2 separate regions of the Homo sapiens genome follow, and region 2 is linked to region 1. Evidence: fine-mapped expression QTL. A gene starts in region 1. The other region holds a variant in brackets. All regions are shown on one strand. Distances are between the middles of the regions. Region 1 holds the start of GCOM1 (GCOM1, MYZAP-POLR2M combined locus). Region 2 has its middle 28 kb from the start of GCOM1.

Region 1 (5,377 bases):
AGAAAGAGAAGCTTCAGAGATATAAGAGTGAAGAGGGCATGAAATATCAGGAGGGCCAGAATTGCTTGGGTTCATCTACTGTGTGCTCTTGTCCAGTGATTTAACTCTTGATCATTTGTGCAAGAAATAATGAGTCATTGCTGCTCAGGACTTTGCTGGAGAAAAGGGTCCTATCATAAGCCTCTCAACTAAAGATGCCAATGGAATTTGGAAAGAGTTTAGCAGAAAGCAACAAAGACAATTCAGAAGCAGAGACCTAGAGGATATGAAAGATAATTCTAGGAACTGGGATGGGAGAAGGAGGTAAAATTCAGTAACTGATTACAAGAAAATGAAGGGTGCTTATACAGACATCTGGAATTTTCTACACACCTGTGCTTTAGCAGAGAAATTCAGGACTGCTCTTAGGCCTATGTGGCTATTTCTGTGGATAGAAAAGGATGACAGCTAAGACAGTTTTGTCATAGCTCCCGTTCTCTCCAGCCCAAACACTAGCAACCCCTTCATCACCAATGCTCAGAGGGTCTGGAGTAGATGAGTCATGTTGCAAGGGAATGTGGAGAACTTCTACACCAGACCCTTATCCCTGTTCCCCTCCCATTGGCCCTCTTCCCCACTCTCAGTTCTGTAGACTCCAGAGGACTGCTGACTGGGCAGAAGTTCTCAGCTTTTGATTCCTCTTTTGAAAAGAGTCCATCTTTTTTTAAAAATCATCTTCTCTCAGAAATATTAATGGAAACCAGTGACTGTGACTTCATTTTTTACTTTTTCCTCTCCACTCTAGATCCACTTTTCCATTGATTTCAGTCCTACTTGTCTTCCCATTTTCCTTCTTTCCCACTTTCTGGGCTCCCCACTCTCCTCTCTCTTGCAGTTCCTTATGACCTCAGATTCCTAGTGCTGGCCTATTAGGGAGGAGCTGTGGCATAAGCCAGGGCCTGGCATCTGCCTGGACACACCACCCACAGCCCTTGGCGATTGTCAGCCAGCTTTGGGGAAATGGCCTGGCTGGGACAACCCTGGGGCTCTTGTTGCTTCAGCTGCCAAATTGCTTGGAGTCCCTGGCCCACCCTAGGAGCTGGGTTGGCAAGGATCTTAGTTTCTGTTTTTCATGACCATGAGTGAGTTGAAATCTTACTCTGTAATAACATTTCTTCATTCTTTCCACATTTACTTGCACTACCACACGTCAATTACCTGCTCTAGATATTGGACAGGCAGAGATGTAAACAAGATCCAGCTTCTACACAGAGCTCACAAGCTAGTGAGCTGTCTGCTGCTTTTGTAAAGAAATATAACACCGTGTGAATAGGATGTTAACAATATGAAAAAGACTTGGGTAGATTAGAGGGCTTCGTGGAAGTGGAATGGGAAGGAACCTGTCATGAACAATTTTCTTTTTGGAAGGGATAGGTGGATGGGAGGATGCAGAGAGGAGTGTAGCAGAAAAGCAGAAGGACTTGGGTTAGAAGACTAGATGTGTAGTCTCAGCTGTTCACCAATTAACCTAATGTCTCTGGCCTCAGTTTCCTCATTTGCAAAACAGGGGCGATAACTGTAGCCCACCTTGTGGGGCATTGTGAGAATTGGTTGAGAAAATGCATATAAAGCACTTAGGACACAAGCACAGCTACTGTGAGGATGACGATGAGGATGGTGAAGAACAGGCTGTGCAACTTTGGGAAAGTCACTTGTATACACCGGCCTCAGTTTCCTCATCTACAAAAGGAGTGAGTTCCACAGGATCATCTGTAATTCTGTTTAGCAACATTTTTTTTTCAGCATCTTCCCTGTTGGTGCCATTGGGCATTCAGAGAGGGTCAAGGCCTGGCCTCTGCCCTCCAGAAGGACAGGGTACAGGCACACACATAGATAACTCTAACAGAAGACAGGGTCCCGCGGAGCTGCTAAGTTCCTGAGCATGCGTGTTTGGGGAAGGGGTTTCTGGAGAGCTCCGTGGGGAGGCAGTGCTTGACCTGGGCTTTGAAGACAGAGATTGTGTCTTTCCCTGCTGAAAAACACTTTGTCCTCAAGATAAAGGCCAAATTTCCAGCTAAGCACACAGGTTCCTCATGATGTCCTCAGCTCCCTTCCGCTGCTTCTCCACTGTTTTCCCACTGCACTGTGATACTTCCAATTCTTGAAACATATTTTATACCTTCCCTTGCTTTCCTTCCATCTTTGTGCATGCTAGTTCTTTTGACCTGGGACTCCCTCCTCCCTCTGTTAGGGGACAGCAGAGGGGACAAGCAAGGCACTAGGGTCGGACTGGGGGATTCATATCCTACCTTTGCCACTGAGAGGCCAGTGGGTCGCCTGCTGTGTTGCTCAATCCCTAGGTGAGTCAGCGTCTTCATCTGCAAAATGGGGATACAAGGTAACAACAGTGACTCCCTCAAAGGGCAATGGTGAGGATTAAATGAGGTAACACACGCAAAGTGCTCGCCAGGCAGGCCCACAGTAATCATTGAATAAATATGGGCAGTGTGGCCCACTCCTACTTGCATTTCAGGTCTTAGCTTAGTCATCACCTCCTCTGAGGTTGGCTGTGTGCTCCCTTAGTACATGGTATCTCCTCTTCTACCACAGCCCGGCACCTGTCATCCCCACCACACTGCAAACTCTCCGAGGCCAACAGCCAGTCGACTGGGTTGGCTGCTGGTGGGGACGCATAATAGGCATTCAGGAAATACTGAATGAATGACATGGGGTGAGGGTCCCAGTGATACGAGGGCGTGCAGAGGCTGTAGGGGGCAGTCCGGGGTGGGGGTAGGTCGTGAGACTGAATGGGCAGGTGGATCTCAACTCTGCGGGGGACAGAGAGAGCATGGGCGTCCAGGCTGTCCAGGGCTCCTTCTTGCCCTGGGACTGACCCTGGGAGGGCGCAGCGCCCTGGGAGAGGATGGTGCTCAACTTTAACCGGGTCGGCGCCCTCGGGAGAAAATGCAGCCTGACGGGTCGGGTGAGCGCGCTCGGCCCCGCCCCGGCCCGGCCCGGCCCCGCCCCCGGCCCCACCCCCGGGCCTTCGCGGTGCAGCTGAGGCTGCAAGTAGCCGGCGCCGTCCCGCGTCGCCCCCGCGCAGGGCGGGCCCCGCACGCTTATTCTGCCCGGGAGGAACGCCGGCGTCCAGCCCGCTACCGACCGCCGCTGCGGGATGCTGCGCTCCACGTCCACGGTCACCCTGCTCTCGGGCGGCGCCGCCAGGACGCCCGGGGCGCCCAGCAGGAGGGTGAGTAGCGGGGGCGGGAGCCGCCGCCGTCCCGTTCCCCCATCCCGGCCGCCCCCTCTAGAGGGGACTAGGGATGGGAAAGCTCGGGAGCCAGCACCTGGCCCCGACGCCCCACCCTGGGCTCAACTCCCCGGTCCTGTGCCGGCTCTGGCAGTGACCCTCCCGCTTGAGGTTTCAGGGGGCCCACCAGCTGGTAGGAGAGGGCTTAGGGGACTTTATGGAATTCCCAGAGATTTCCTCTCCTTCCTGCCTTTCTGTCAAGCCGAGTTTATTGGCGGCACCAGTTTAAAAATGAAGGAAGACATTTGTGCAGTGTCCCTACCTTGAGACTCAAAAGTAATGAATGTATTTAAAACTCAAACTTTCCTTCTTCCATTAATTAAAAGAAAGATGGGGTCACTTGTGTCCACTAGTGATAGGGTATCCACTAGTGATAGGGTAATTCTGGAGTGGGGTTAGCCAAGGTGGGCAAACCAGAACAGCAGCCGGCCGCCCAGGAGCCCGACTGTGTGGGACTCCGGTTTATGTAAACCACTTTCTTCTGTCTGATTTAAATATTAGCACAGTGACAACAATGGCAGCACTGAAAGCTTGGGACAGCATCTCCAGGGAAGGTTTCCCTTTGGAAGTGCTGTTTCTTTTTGATCTTTGTGGCATCTTTTCCCATCTCTCCAGATGCTCTGTAAAAGAAATGCTCCATCTTTCTAACACGGTCAGCACCTTAGAGCCACAGCCAGGGGCTTGGCTTGTGGCTTTTTAGTTCTTCCATTTATCATGATGTTCAATACTTATCATTTGGTACCTCTTTGCTCTGATTGAGACTTCTGTAATCGTGTTTCCTCAAGATTTAAACAGGTGGTTAAGTCCAAAGCAAAACCCCCACTGGTTCTGTCTGCGTGCAGGCTTGGACCTGCTTATTTGCTTTTACATGCCTTAAGCGAGTGATGGTGGTCACCTTATAAGCTGTCTTTCTTAGCTCTAGAAGAAAGGTGTGTTACTCTTGGGCATGGGCCAACTGATGGATTCTGGGGTGTGTGTGTGCGTGCACTCACCAGACACTTAGGTTGTGTACACAGGCGCACACACACACACACACACACACACACCCCAGAATCCATCAGTTGGCTCATGCCCAAGGTTGACAGAACTCCAGTTGTCCAATCATTAGCATCATAGAGTAAGATCTACATTGGGTCCAAGGGGGTTTCCAACCACAGTCCTGGCCTTACTCTAAGTTGGGTGTTTGTATTTTTCTATGGAAATCTTTCTCAATTTGAACACAATTGCAACTGAGAAAGAATGAAGTCACTGAAAAGCTAACCCTGAGCCCTGAGAGGATCATATGTGTGACCAGACTGCATGAATTGCATGAAATTCTCTGTAACTTCCCTTCCAGAGGTGGGGATTAGTTGGGGTACCTAACCTAATACGGTGGGTTGATACAAATGTGACTAGTATACAAATAACATTTCTGAAGATTTTGGGTCAAACGTTTCCTTTGGAATATTTATTTAATTATAGGTGCTTTGCTGTCGGACACATTGTGACACTCTTGAAAAGACTTTGCCTTTTGAATAAGATGGCAGACGTATTTTGGACTGGAGAACTCAGGGCTCGGGATCAGGCCATTCAGGGCTGTCCTGGGTACACTGGTACTTGTTTCTGGAAGGAAGGTATCTAAAGGGTCTAGGGTTCTGCCCATCTTTATGGTTTCTAGCTCTGCTCATGATTTGCAGATGTTACAAGTACTATCTGTGTGTGTGCTGGGGATTGTGTGTGTGGTGGGAAGCTGTGAGATGTTGATTAATTGATTTATTGAACATTCATAAACCTTTCTCTGTGTGGTAAAGGGCTGGCATTGGGGTCCGCCCTACCTGTAGAGGCAGACATTTTCCCAAACTAACATCAAACAAAGTGGTGATGGTTATAGTGGGGTGAAGAGTTTACAAAGTTCTGTAGAAGCTAAAATAAAGGTTCTTCCTGAGGCATCAGGGGAAGGCCTCTCACTAAAGGTATGTTTTTTTGAGATGGAGTCTCACTTTGTCATCCAGGCTGGAGTGCCATGGCACGATCTCGGCTCACTGCAGCCTCCACCTCCCAGGTTCAAGCAGTCCTCCTGCCTCAGCCTTCCGAGTAGCTGGGACTACA
Region 2 (5,377 bases), 28 kb before region 1:
CTGAGAAGACGAGTAATTTTTTTAAAATAGCCAGTGAAATTAGTTCCTATAAAAGATGTGATCCTTGATCATCAATAAGGACAATCGACTTCTCCCAATGGAGAAATCTGATGATCCATTTCACACATCCCTGGGTGCAAATTACTACCTAGTCTACACTAGTGTTTCTCAAACTTCAGTGTGCATCAGAATAACCTTGAGGGCTTGTGAAAACATAGACTGCTGGCCCCACTCCCAGAGTTTCTAGGGCAGCCAAGAATTTGATGCCAATGCTGCTGGTCTGGGGACCACACTGAGAACCTCTGGGTTTAAACATCCTACCTGACCTTTCTCAGTATATCCACTGGGTGGCAGCAGAGAGCATCACAGGCACTGCACAGTGGTCAAACCTGGAAAGCCCGGGCAGAGGCTGTGGAGGACTATTTCTGTGTATTCAATGTAGGTTATTTTTGCTGCCAAATGACAATACAAACCATCCACAATATCAGGCTCTTCAAAATTCAAGGATGCGTTGTATAAGAGAATGATTGGTGACTTGGATCTTGTTCCTTTTCCAGGATGTCGTCACCACCAGACCCAGTCGAGACATCCTCTCTCTACCAGGCGCCCCCAACAAGTCCTTCCTTCAAAAAGAGAATAGTTTTTAATAACTTTCAAGGTCACCTGCAAAAGGGTTTCTGTTTGAGTAATGTAATGACTGTAAAGCTGGCAAAAAACTGTATCGCCAGCTGATAGCTTGAGTCAGACTGGAAAATTACGAGCAAATTTTTCCATGAACCAAGAGGAAGTGTCCAGTCATTGTTGAGAGCAGGTTCATAGCTGTGTACGAGCTCTAGGAGATGGGGAGGCCCGTGCAGACCTACTTCCTTCAAGAAGGGAAGACAAAAGAAACACGTTTTGAGTTTGGGTTTTTAGATGGTTGGGAAGTTTATGTTATAGGATTTTTTTTTGAGGGGGGGGTTTGTTTGTTGATTTTTGTTTTTAAGTTATGAGAGTTATTTTCTTTTTCTTCCTTTTTTTTTTTTTTAGAAGGAGTTTCACTCTTGTTGCCCAGGCTGGAGTGCAATGGTGCGATGTCGGCTCACCACAACTTCCACCTGCCAGGTTCAAGTGATACTCCTGCCTCAGCCTCCTGAGTAGCTGGGATTAGAGGCATGCGACACCATGCCTGGCTAATTTTATATTTTTTGGTAGAGACGGGGTTTCTCCATGTTGGTCAGGCTGGTCTCGAACTCCTGATCTCAAGTGATCCACCCACCTAGGCCTCCCAAAGTGCTGGGATTACAGGCGTGAGCCACCGCGCCCGGCTCTGAGAGTTATTTTCTACTAACCAATGATGTACTGCTAGATTTTGGAATAAAAGGTTCTATGTGTGTGGGGAGGGGAGGAAGGAGCAGAATCAAAAAGCCCTGAGCAATGATAGGATGGATTAGAGTTTGGAAAGGGAAACGTGGGGTCCAGAACACACTGGTTAGGCTGTGGCAAGGGGGTCCTCTTGACATCCTCTAACCAGATCTCACAGCACACTTCCTGCCATGTCGCAGCAGAGACCAGCCCTCACCAGACCCGGTGCTGACATTAACCAGGTGCTGCCCTGAGCGAGATGGCGTCCTGCCACGCCTGCTCCGTCATCTGGGAGATGCCTTGTCGGCAGCTCCAAGGCCTCCTGTGGGAAGGCATGAACGTCTGTCCTCACGTCCCTGCTTCCCTTATTACCCAGCGGTGGAAGTTCATCCCCCACTCTCCTATCTTCCTGAATTCATCCCATCCTTTGTTGGCCCTGTGTGTGGTTTCTTCCTGTACTCTCTTTTGTGGATTTTTGTAGAATTTCAGAAGTGATTGTGATATTAGATGTGATCATCTCTGCTCTGCCTGCTGCTGGGGATGTGTGGCACTGACCCACTCTCCCCATTTTCCTCATTGTGGCTCTATAGTCAAAAAGGCTCTTAGGCCCCTTCTAAGTTCTTTCTTCTCCAGGCTAACATCCTTTTCTTCTTTAAGTCCATTTTTAACATTGGTTGTGAGTTAACTCCTGACCTCTCCCCCTCTGTCTAGTCCATGCTGGTCACTCCCTCCTTGCTCTAAAAGTGAAGGTGCTGGTGGGAGCAGGACCTTCTGGCTATCCCCAGGCAGGCCCGTGCCTCCCTCGAGGCTTTGACATTGTGATGTGTGTGTCTCTTCACACCAGGGTGGGAGCCCCTTGAGGGAAAGAACCACGCCTTTCTCTCTCGGGAGAAAGCCCCTGTCAGACAGCAGGCATTTGAAATTAAACAGAACATTATAATTCTGGGTCCTAACCTTTATAAATGCAAGGCAAGACTAGATTATGTTAGCGGATTTGTCAATATTCATTTGGTTCAGTCTTATTGCACAGATAGGCAATTAAAGCATTTTAAATGGGCTGTGCTTAAGTGTGGTCCCCCTCTCATGTACTCCTATAGCAGGCTTTAAAACACTGCATTGCGCTTAAAGATCTGCTTCTTGGATTTGGGCTGTTGAGCTCTTTTCCTTCTTCCACATCATTCCCTCAACTTCTCAAGAAGTTGTCAACTTGAGATGCTGACACATTCTGCAAGTGCACAGGGACACAGCCCTAAGAGTGATCAGCTACCCCCAGTGCCCATCAGTGGTTCAGTGAAGGACGGCATCCCTGCTTAGAATTTGACCATTCAGTCTGCCGGTTACCAAAACCATGTTCATGCTTTAGTGTAAAGGTTTAGCATCAAGGTTACGTCCCAGGTGATGCTTCAAATCCAAACTTCCCCCTTCCCTGGGCTCCTGTGGTCTTTTGTTCTCTTGCAGCGCTTCCGGACTGTGGTTAGCTGATTATAGTTATTTTTTCCTACATCATTAGGTGGTGAGCTTCTCCGGG[A/G]CAAAGTCTGTCTCATTATTCATCTTTGTTTGTAGCAGGTGCCTGACAAATACTGATAGAATTAAAATAACTTTTGTTTGTCTCACATTTTGATAAATGAACAGGGCTATATTTACCTGAACGTTTATGATTTCATACATGGACAGCATATTTCCTCTTGGGCTTTTCTCTTCCTAGACTGGATAGATTTAATGATTTTAGTTTTATGTCACAGGACAACCCTCCACCTGGAAGAACTGAAGTTCTATTAAGTTTAGGGGTTTCTGGCTAATTTGTAAATTGTTGAGAAAGAATCCACCTTGTTCTGGTCAAAAGGTGACAAATATAGTTAACTTCAACAAAGGGCAGAGAGTCAGCTATTGTTTCTGCCAATGATTACTTTTGTTATATGCTTGAGATCAGATACTAGTCATTTGTATCCCAGTTAACTTAATATAGATAGCATTTTCTAATATTTTCAAGCGTTACTCTAATGCTTTTTGACGCCTATTTTGAACATCAATCTTTTAAACTCATTATATATTATTCTATAATTTATAGAAAAATCATCACACTTTACCTAATTCTTGTTTGTTTGTTTGTTTGTTTTGAGACAGAGTCTCGCTCTGTCACCCAGGCTGGAGTGCAATGGCGCGATCTCGGATCACTGCAAGCTCCGCCTCCGGGGTTCATGCCATTCTCCTGCCTCAGCCTCCCGAGTATCTGGGAATACAGGTGCCCGCCACCACGCCCAGCTAATTTTTTTGTATTTTTCGTAGAGACGGGGTTTCACCGTGTTAGCCAGGATGGTCTCGATCTCTTGACCTCCTGATCCGCCTGCCTCGGCCTCCCAAAGTGCTGGGATTACAGGCGTGAGCCACCGCGCCTGGCACTTTACCTAATTCTTATAGGCAATATTTTCTTTGGTACTTGGGACTTTTTTTAAAGAATAGTATCCTCAAATTGGAATTAGTGTGTCAAATAATATGAATGCTTTTCTGATTCAATTGGATTTTTAATTTTTATACTTACTCAAATAATTTATACTGACTGTTGAAAAATAGATAAGCAATTAATAATAAAGAAAGTCCCCCTTGCTTTCACTATTTAGAAATAACTACTATAAATATTTTTATGTATATTTGTGTACACTTTTTTCTTTACATGGATGTTTATTTCACAAAATGTGGAATCTTACTGTTTATGCTATTACATAGCTTATTTTTTTAAATTATTGTGAATTTTTTCAGCTATAAAAAGATATTTTCTCAAAAATTTTTTTCAAAAGAATATATTTTTTCAACACAGTTTTAATAATTGCACTGTATTCCATGGAATAATAATACTAATAGTTAACATTTGTTTTGTAATTTTTATATGCTATGCAATATTCTATTTGTTTTATATACCTAAGCTCATTTAATCATCACAATAACCCTGTGAGATAGGTACTATTACTCTATTTTAGCAAAAAAAATTATGCATAGAAATATTAAATGACTTGCCTAGTTATGGGCATACCATAAATGTGCATGACCCAGTAGGTCATTGTAGAACATTTTAGTTATTTATTTTTTGTTTGCCATCATAAGAAATGTTGCTATTAATTCATGAAACAAATATTCACTGAGCTCCCACTCTATGCTGGGTGTTTTGCTAGAAGCTTCGTATGTAAGGGAAAAACTGTTGCAGAAAGTAGGCTTGGCTGGGAAAGAGACCTATTTGAAAGGATCCTGGCATGAGATGGCGTTTTCTCTCTTCTGTTTGCTCACATCGCGGAGGGGAACTCCATACTGCAACAGCAGCCCCTGGCTGGATGTGGTTTTGTCTCTTTCGTCAGCAGGGATATCTCCCGCCCCACTTCCTTGCTCTCTCAGGAAGGCCCCCTCGTGCTCCGCACACCTGCCAGGGTGGGGCTTGTGGAGTTGACCTTCTTCCTTCCTGAATCAGACAACCAAACCAGAGGTGTAACTTCGGTGGCTGGTCCTGTACCTCTGATTCTGTTCTGTGTTCTAAGCAGAGTTTTCACGAACAATGAAAACGCCTGGGAGTGTTCATTGCCAGTTATTAAAGAAAAATGGAATTGGCTACTGTACGGTGTAATAGTCCCCAGGTTATTCCACCCTTTCTGGCAGACTATTTACTCATGTACTTTTAGTATACTGAGGGAAGGCTAAGAGATCTCTGGCCAGTGGGTAGGAAAGAATAAAAAGTCTTTGAGTTTTCAGGTATTTTCTTTTAGTAGTAGCTTCCAGCAAGGCACAGTGGCTCACGCCTGTAATCCGAGCACTTTAGGAGGTCTAGGCATGTGGATCACTTGAGGGCAGAGTTTGAGACCAGCCTGACCAACATGGCAAAACCCTGTTTCTTCTAAAAATACAAAAATTAGCCAGGCATGGTGGCACGCACCTGTAATCCCAGCTACTCAGGAGGCTGAGGCAGGAGAATTGTTTGAACCCGGGAGGCAGAGGTTGCAGTGAGCTGAGATCATGCCACTGCACTCCAGGCTGGTGACAGCAAGACTCC

What was found. PIP is the estimated chance that this variant, and not a neighbour inherited with it, causes the effect.
Region 2: its variant is fine-mapped to the expression of GCOM1 in T cells (TOPMed, PIP 0.97).

What each region holds. Positions count from the first base shown.
Region 1 is chr15:57,588,881-57,594,257 of GRCh38, forward strand. GCOM1 (GCOM1, MYZAP-POLR2M combined locus) reads left to right here and starts at 3,024. Exons shown (of 17, transcript NR_104371.3): 1 at 3,024-3,229. It overlaps MYZAP (myocardial zonula adherens protein), which reads left to right and starts at 3,024. Exons shown (of 13, transcript NM_001018100.5): 1 at 3,024-3,229. The coding sequence starts at 3,155. RefSeq lists a silencer at 2,913-3,022.
Region 2 is chr15:57,560,823-57,566,199 of GRCh38, forward strand. No RefSeq gene overlaps it. Among named protein-coding and RNA genes, the nearest start is that of GCOM1, 28 kb to the right of the region's middle. The variant A/G (reference allele first, on the strand shown) is at 2,873.